Homo sapiens: one gene and its partner. The protein of the gene in region 2 purifies or fractionates together with the protein of the main gene of each other region. This does not show direct contact. Each region holds a gene or a part of one and is shown on either strand. Other genes may lie near its edges.

The links.
Region 1: the proteins of ZNF778 (region 2) and SV2B purify together in Homo sapiens (affinity purification with mass spectrometry; one large-scale study listed by BioGRID and IntAct). This does not show direct contact.

The regions. Positions count from the first base shown.
Region 1 is NC_000015.10:91,103,128-91,106,780, reverse strand, and holds part of SV2B (synaptic vesicle glycoprotein 2B), read right to left. Parts: intron 1-3,653.
Region 2 is NC_000016.10:89,220,637-89,224,289, forward strand, and holds part of ZNF778 (zinc finger protein 778), read left to right. Parts: intron 1-360; 5' UTR 361-491; coding exon 492-516; intron 517-1,455; coding exon 1,456-1,547; intron 1,548-2,520; coding exon 2,521-2,647; intron 2,648-3,653. UniProt on the Homo sapiens protein: May be involved in transcriptional regulation.

The DNA of each region.
Region 1 (3,653 bases), on a different chromosome or scaffold from region 2:
CCTTGCTTCTGCCTCATCTTAAATTAAGAGCAGTACAATAATAACCCAAGAACATCACACCCCTGAATTTCAGCCACCTCCCTCTAAAGGATCTTTTCTCATTTTTTGAAAATATGAGCTATTTTTTGGTTTCCACTTGTTCCTCTTTCTTTCTTGTCACCACACGTTGCTTTCCGTATGATATAAGCGATTGGAGCCTTCACATTTAAAGCCTCTTTTTAGTGCATAAGATCCACAATAAGGCTCCCATGAGACCTTGTAAAGAAAGGAAATAACTTCAAGGAGTTACACTTCAAAATCCACCAAAGCAAAGATTTGCAGTCAACTCTAGTAAGTAAGTGGTTCCATTCACTCATTCAGTACATATCCATTGAGGATATACAATGTGCCAGACAATATTCTGGGCACTAGTGATACAGCAGTGACTTGGCTCACGGAAAAATAAATAACATGCTAATGATACTCAAACCTATGTCTCCTTCCTGAAACTCTTCCCTGAACTCTAGACTCTCATATGCAATGAACTACTTAACATCTCCCATTGGATATCCAATTAAACCCCATCACTGTTTCCTCTCCACCTCACTAAAGTGCTACTCCATCCAGCTGCTTAGGTCAAAATTCATTATGTCATCTTTTTCTCATACTCTAAGTATCTAACTCATCCACACATCCTGCCTGCTTTATGAATTTAGCCACTTCTCACCATCTTTTTTTATTTTTATTTATTTTTGACATGATCTCAATCCATTGTCCAGGCTGGAGTACAATGGCATTATCGTGACTCACTGCAGCCTCGACCTCCCCAGGCTCAGGTGATCCTCCCACCTCAGACTCCCGAGTAGCTAGGGCTACAGGCATGTGCCACCACACCTGGCTAATTTTTTTATTTGTTGTAGAGTTGGGATTTTGCCACGTTGTCCAGGCTGGTCTCAAACTCCTGAGCTCAAGTGATCCACCCACCTTGGCCTCCCAAAATGCTGGGATTACAACTTCTCACCATTTTAAGTACTATCCAGCCTGGTCCAAACCACCACCCTCTCTCACCTGGGTCACTGCAGTACCATCCTGACTAATCTCCCTGTTTCCACCCTTATCCTCCAAGAGTCTACACTAAGCTCTAAAGCTCAAGGGATCCTTGGAAAACATAAATCAGCTAATAGCACCCTGTGCTCAGAATTCTCCAGTGGTGTCCCATTTTCCTCAAAATAAAGGCTAAAGTCTACACAAGGCCCTACAGGACCTTCTATTAGCTGGCTCCCTGCTACTTCTCTGATCTCTTCTCCCACGCTCACCCTGTCTCGTTCAGTTCCTTCTACATAAGCCACCTTGCTGTTCCTGGAACATGCCAGTTATCTGTTGCCTCGGGGCCTTTGCACCTGTTCTCCCTACCTGGAAATGTCTTTCCCCAGATAACTGTCTGGCTCACTCCTTCACTTCCTTCATGTCACCCTGACCACCTTGCATAAAATACCCACACTTCGTTTTACCCTACCCTCCCACTCCAACACAACAAGGCACCCCCCATCTTCCTTTCCCTGCTCAACATTCCTTAATCACCTGATATAAAACATACATTATTTACTTACATATTATTTGTCTCCCTCAACTAGAATGAATGCTTCATGAGATGGGTCTACTTCCTATAACATGCCTGGCACATAGAGACCACTCAATAAATATTTATTTAGTGAATGAATGATTATCTAAAGATACATACATCTCTAGATGGTCAACCACAGAAACACAGAAAGAGACAGTCACAAGAGCAAGTACAGGCTCTGCCCATTCGAGCAGAGTCCGGAAGAAAAGGAAACCTAGCCAACAGCACTTTAAATGTTCAGGTCCCAGTCAGGCGCGGTGGCTCACGCCTGTAATCCCAGCACTTTGGGAGGCCGAGGCGGGCAGATCATCTGAGGTCAGGAGTTTGAGACCAGCCTGACCAACATGGAGAAACCCCATCTCTACTAAAAATACAAAATTAGCCGGGCATGGTGGTGCACGCCTGTAGTCCCAGCTACTCAGGAGGCTGAGGCAGAAGAATCGCTTGAACCTGGGAGGCTGAGGTTGCAGTGAGCTGAGATCGCACCACTGCACTCAGCCTGGGCAACAAGAGTGAAACTCCATCTCAAAAATAAATAAATAAATATTCAGGTCCCTATGGTAGATTGATTGATTGATTGATTGCAAAATGTCTCAATTCTTCCCCTCCCTGTATCTGTACATTTTGCAATGTGACTATGTAGCTCCTCCTATCAAGAAGTGGAGTCTGTTTTCCTAACTTTCCACTCTGGGCTATCTTGTGCCTTAATTTTGTCATTAGACAAAGATAAAGTGACGGAGTGCCAGTTATCAGCTTAGGCCTCAAGAGGCCATACAAGCTTTTACTTTCTCTTAGCCTCCTGCCACTACCATGTGAACATGCCAGGCTAGCCTGCCAGAGGATGAGTGACCACATGGAGCAGAGCCAAGTCATCCAGCTGAGGCCATCCTAAAGCAGCCAGCCCTCAGACACTCCATCAGCAGACCAAAATCACATGAGCAAGCACAGCTGAAATCAAGCAAGCACAACTCAGAACTGCAGAACTACCCAGCCAACCAAGAGACATGTGAGAAAATAAGAAATGGCTGTTGTTTTAAGCCATTAAGTTTAGGGGTGGTTTGGTCTGTAGTCCCGTTGGCAAGGTTGGCCCTAAAGCATGTAATCAGTCCCTAGGGTACGCATCTAAGCTGCTTTGCTCTGAATAATGTGCTTCAGGAGATCTTCTCCTTGTGATTTGGCTGTTATGACAGGGGTCTGCAGGAAGAAGACCCACCAGCCAAGCCACACAGTGTCTCAACCACTGCAAATCAATAAGCTGGCATGCAGGTGAACAAGGTCACTGTGACGTGGCCCGGAAAGACAGATCAGGTTTCTGAGGCAGCAATACTAAAAGCCAGATATTGGATGGGGGAAATTCACAGAAGTAAATGTTGCCTTCTGAGGTGGACTCGGGGACACCCAGCCAGACTCTCTGACCTTGACCCAGCCTCACCTCATTCTATTTCACAGAAACTTTGACTAGGTTCTCAGGCATCCAGCCCCATTTCTGGCCATGGAACACACTGCAGTAGCCCTTCTGCACCAAGGACAGCTGAGTGATGAGGCTCTCAAATGCCCAAACCATGTTTTCTCTAGAGGAATAAAGTTTCCAAAGGGCAGAGCAGCAAACTGATCTTTATGTTAAGCCTATAAGATAGAGGCTTTAAATAAATTTGCCATATGATATTATGTAAATGCATTTCATGGTACACTGAAGGTCAGCATATTTCCAGATGATCCCAACACTTTTCCATGATCATAGAAACTCTTCTCATTCTCAAAGAAAAAAGAATATCTAGCAAGGACTGCTGGCCTGTTTGCTAAAGATGACCTTTTCTTTTAGTGTGGGGGAAAGGAAACAAAAAATCATAATACTAAGATTCAAAAGAAGCACAAACACAGTCCTCCATCCGGATGGGAGAAATCTGAATGTTGCGTTCCACAGTGTCCTTAATTCCTGTGCTTCCTGTTGCCTTGCAAAGACCTATGCTTTCTGCTTCCTGCATTCGTTTATGCTCTGAATGACCACAAGTACTTATATCTACCAACCAACCTTCTTCTAAACACAGAG
Region 2 (3,653 bases):
GACAGCAAGACTCCATCTCAAAAGCAAACAAAACCTGTGACGAGATGGTCGAACATGTACCAGCTAACCGTCCTGGTTCACCACTTCCTAAGTGGATGATGTGGACCAGTTCATGTTATCTGAATCCAGGCTGTTTTAGGTATGAACACGGGTGAAATCTGTGAATGGCTGTTCTGATAATTAAAGGCTTCTGTTGTGTCTTTTGACCCATATACTGCTCTTCAGTAGGTGACGTGGATATTACTAGTCCTCAAGAGAGTAAAGTGGATATAGTGGCTTTCACATATATCATCTGCAGAAACAAGCTAATGCGTGAGGTTTGATAACTGGGAAGTAATGCTTCTTCATCATGATTGCTAGGAAATAGGGATCCAGCCATCCGTGGGTCAGGAGGAATGGAGACTGTACCTTCCACATAGATTCACAAGCTGCCCTGCAGTGGCCTTGGCTTCAGGAAAGGAGCATTCAGACGCTTCCGTCAGCCTCCCAGGATGGCAGCCCCTGACCTGGCCCACGGTAAGTCCTGGTGGGGCTCCTTCTCAGAGCCTCTGCTCTAGGTCCTGATACACAGTGTGTGTATCAGGCCCATGGACGGGGCCTGAGTAGTCACGCTCCGGGTTCCTATTGCAGCTGCTGGAGTGAGCCAGAGAATGCTGACCTGTAAGTCAGCCCCAGGGTGTGTGCTTTGGGGAGGGATGATGTGTAAACTCCTTCATGAGTTTTCTCACCACGGGCAAATGAAGAGTCACGTTCCTCAAGGCGTACCGTTCCATATCTGCAATAGGAGCCTGTTACCATTTCCTGATGGGCGGCATAGCTCACAAACATTTTGTGTCACCAGGCGAAACAGACTACCCTGGCACTGTATGGCTGTGTGTGTGTCTGTGTGTGTTTTCCTGAGGCACTGTATGGCTCTGTGTGTGTGTTTTCCTGAGGCACTGTATGGCTGTGTGTGTGTGTGTGTGTGTGTGTGTGTATTTTCCTGAGGGACTATATTTTCCTGAGGCATTGTATGGCTGTGTGTGTGTGTATTTTCCTGAGGCAGTTTATGGCTGTATGTGTGTGTTTTCCTGAGGCACTGTATGGCTGTGTGTGTCTTTTCCTGAGTGTGCAAGAGTACATGGGAATTCCCTCGCTCTGTATGACTGTGTGTGTGTGTGTGTGTTCCTCAGGCAGTGTATGGCTGTGTGTGTGTGTGTTTTCTTGAGGAAGTGTATGGCTGTGTGTGTGTGTGTGTTTTCCTGAGGTACTGTATGGCTTTGTGTGTGTGTTTTCCTGAGTGTGCAGGTGTATGTGGGAATTCCCTGACACTGTATATCTGTGTGTGTGCGTTTTCCTGAGTGTGCAGGAGTACGTGATAATTTCCTGCTAGGATGGAATGACTTCCGGGTCCATGAGTGTGGAATTAGGGTCAGCTCTGGGTTCTCATGCCTTCTTGCCTTCTTTGTTTTTTAGGAGGTCATGTTTCTAGGGACTCAGTCTGCCTTCATGAAGAACAGACACAGGCAGCAGGGATGGTGGCTGGCTGGCTGATAAATTGTTACCAGGTATGCCAAAACTGTATTTTTTCTTAAAATAACATACTGGTATTCAGCAGATAGACAAGTTTCTGTCTGAGCAGACTTGTCTGCACAGCCTCACTCAAGGACCGAGTCCCTAGTTGAACGCCTCCAGGGAGAAGAGCCTGGCTGGTCAGGTGTTACTGTGAAAATCCTCCCCGTATTTCAGTGTTACTTTTTTTTTTTGAGACGGAGTCTCGCTTTGTCGCCCAGGCTGGAGAGCAATGGCCCAATCTCGGCTCACTGCAATCTCCGCCTCCCAGGTTCAAGCAATTCTCCTGCCTCAGCCTCCCAAGTAGCTGGGATTACAAGTGCCCACCAGCATGCCTGGCTAATTTTTGTATTTTTAGTAGAGACGGGGTTTTGCCATGTTGGCCAGGCTGGTCTTGAACTGCTGATCTCAAGTGATCCACCCGCTTTGGCCTCCCAAAGGGCTGGGATTACAGGCTTGCACCACTGCGCCCAGCCACAACATTACTCATTATTTTCACCCTTGTGCCAAATGCGTGTTTCGTACTTTGCTTAGTGCTCTGACACATGGTAAGGAAGGGGAAGGTATCCTCTCTGGGAACTTATTTCCACATCACGAGTTACCACTTGTTTGTAGTGTGCTCAGGAGAGGGACATAAGGCGAGGGGAGTGCCCAGTGAGCGTGGTGAGAGAAGCTCACATGTTAGAGGTGTCGTTGCGGCCGTGTGACTGGAGGAGAGCGACAGGGTGCGCGTGACTGGAGGAGCGCGACAGGGCACGCGTGACTGGAGGAGAGCGACAGGGTGCGCGTGACTGGAGGAGAGCGACAGGGCGTGTGTGCGGGCAGAGAAGGGTTCCTGGGACCACTGGGCCATGGGGTAGACAGTAGGAGGCCTCACAGTCCCATAGGCGTAGGGCCCCGCCTCCTCATTCTTCAGTGAATACCGATGGACACGTTGGAAGGCTCCAACCGTCATGTGTGATGATTTAGGACGCGGTGACCTTTGACGACGTGGCTGTGGACTTCACCCAGGAGGAATGGACTTTACTGGACCCATCTCAGAGAGACCTCTACAGAGATGTGATGCTGGAAAACTACGAGAACCTGGCCTCAGTAGGTGAGGCTGCCACCGTCCTTTGCAACTTCTGTGGAACCAATACTTGATGTGTCCTTACTGTGTTCCAGGGTTGGTGACGGCAAAGCCGAGTACCACGGGAAGTAAGAGATATAACAACTGTGCTAGTAGGCTTGGTGCTAGTGTGGTCGTTTCCAGAATGTGGTCCTGGGGTCATGAGCATCACCGTCACTCCTCTAGAAACATGCATTCTGAGGCTTCAGCTGGGACACATTGGATCAGAATGTCTCCTGGGGGTGGGCCTGTCATCTCTCCTGTAACAAGCCCTCCCGACGATGCCAATTCACTCTAACACTGAGAACCACTGGGTAGTAGTTTCCCAAGTGAATGAAGATCTCTTATTGCACTTCTGTTATTTCCTATTTGAGTAAGAGTCTTTGTGGTTTTTACGTGTATATTTAAGCCTGAATGTGGGCTTCAGGAATCAGAGATAACCAGTTTCTTTGGGGCGCAGAAGGATGGAGTATTTGCACTTTGAGCCCTTTTGAAACAATTTCACTGCATTCTTTAGAAATGTAGTTCCTGGCATGCCACTGCACTCCAGCCTGGGTGACAGAGCGAGACTCCATCTCAAAAAAAAAACAAACGTAGTTCCTGGCCGGGCGCGGTGGCTCATGCCTGTAATCCGAGCACTCTGGGAGGCTGGGTGCAGTGGCTCAGGGCTGTAATCCCAGCACTCTGGGAGGCCGGGCGCGGTGGCTCAGGGCTGTAATCCCAGCACTCTGGGAGGCCAGGCGCAGTGGCTTAGGGCTGTAATCCGAGCACTCTGGGAGGCTGGGTGCAGTGGCTCAGGGCTGTAATCCGAGCACTCTGGGAGGCTGGGTGCAGTGGCTCAGGGCTGTAATCCCAGCACTCTAGGAGGCCAGGCGCAGTGGCTCAGGGCTGTAATCCCAGCACTCTGGGAGGCAGGGTGTGGTGGCCACGCCTGTAATCCCAGCACTCTGGGATGCTGGACGCAGTGGCTCATGCCTGTAATCCCAGCACTTTG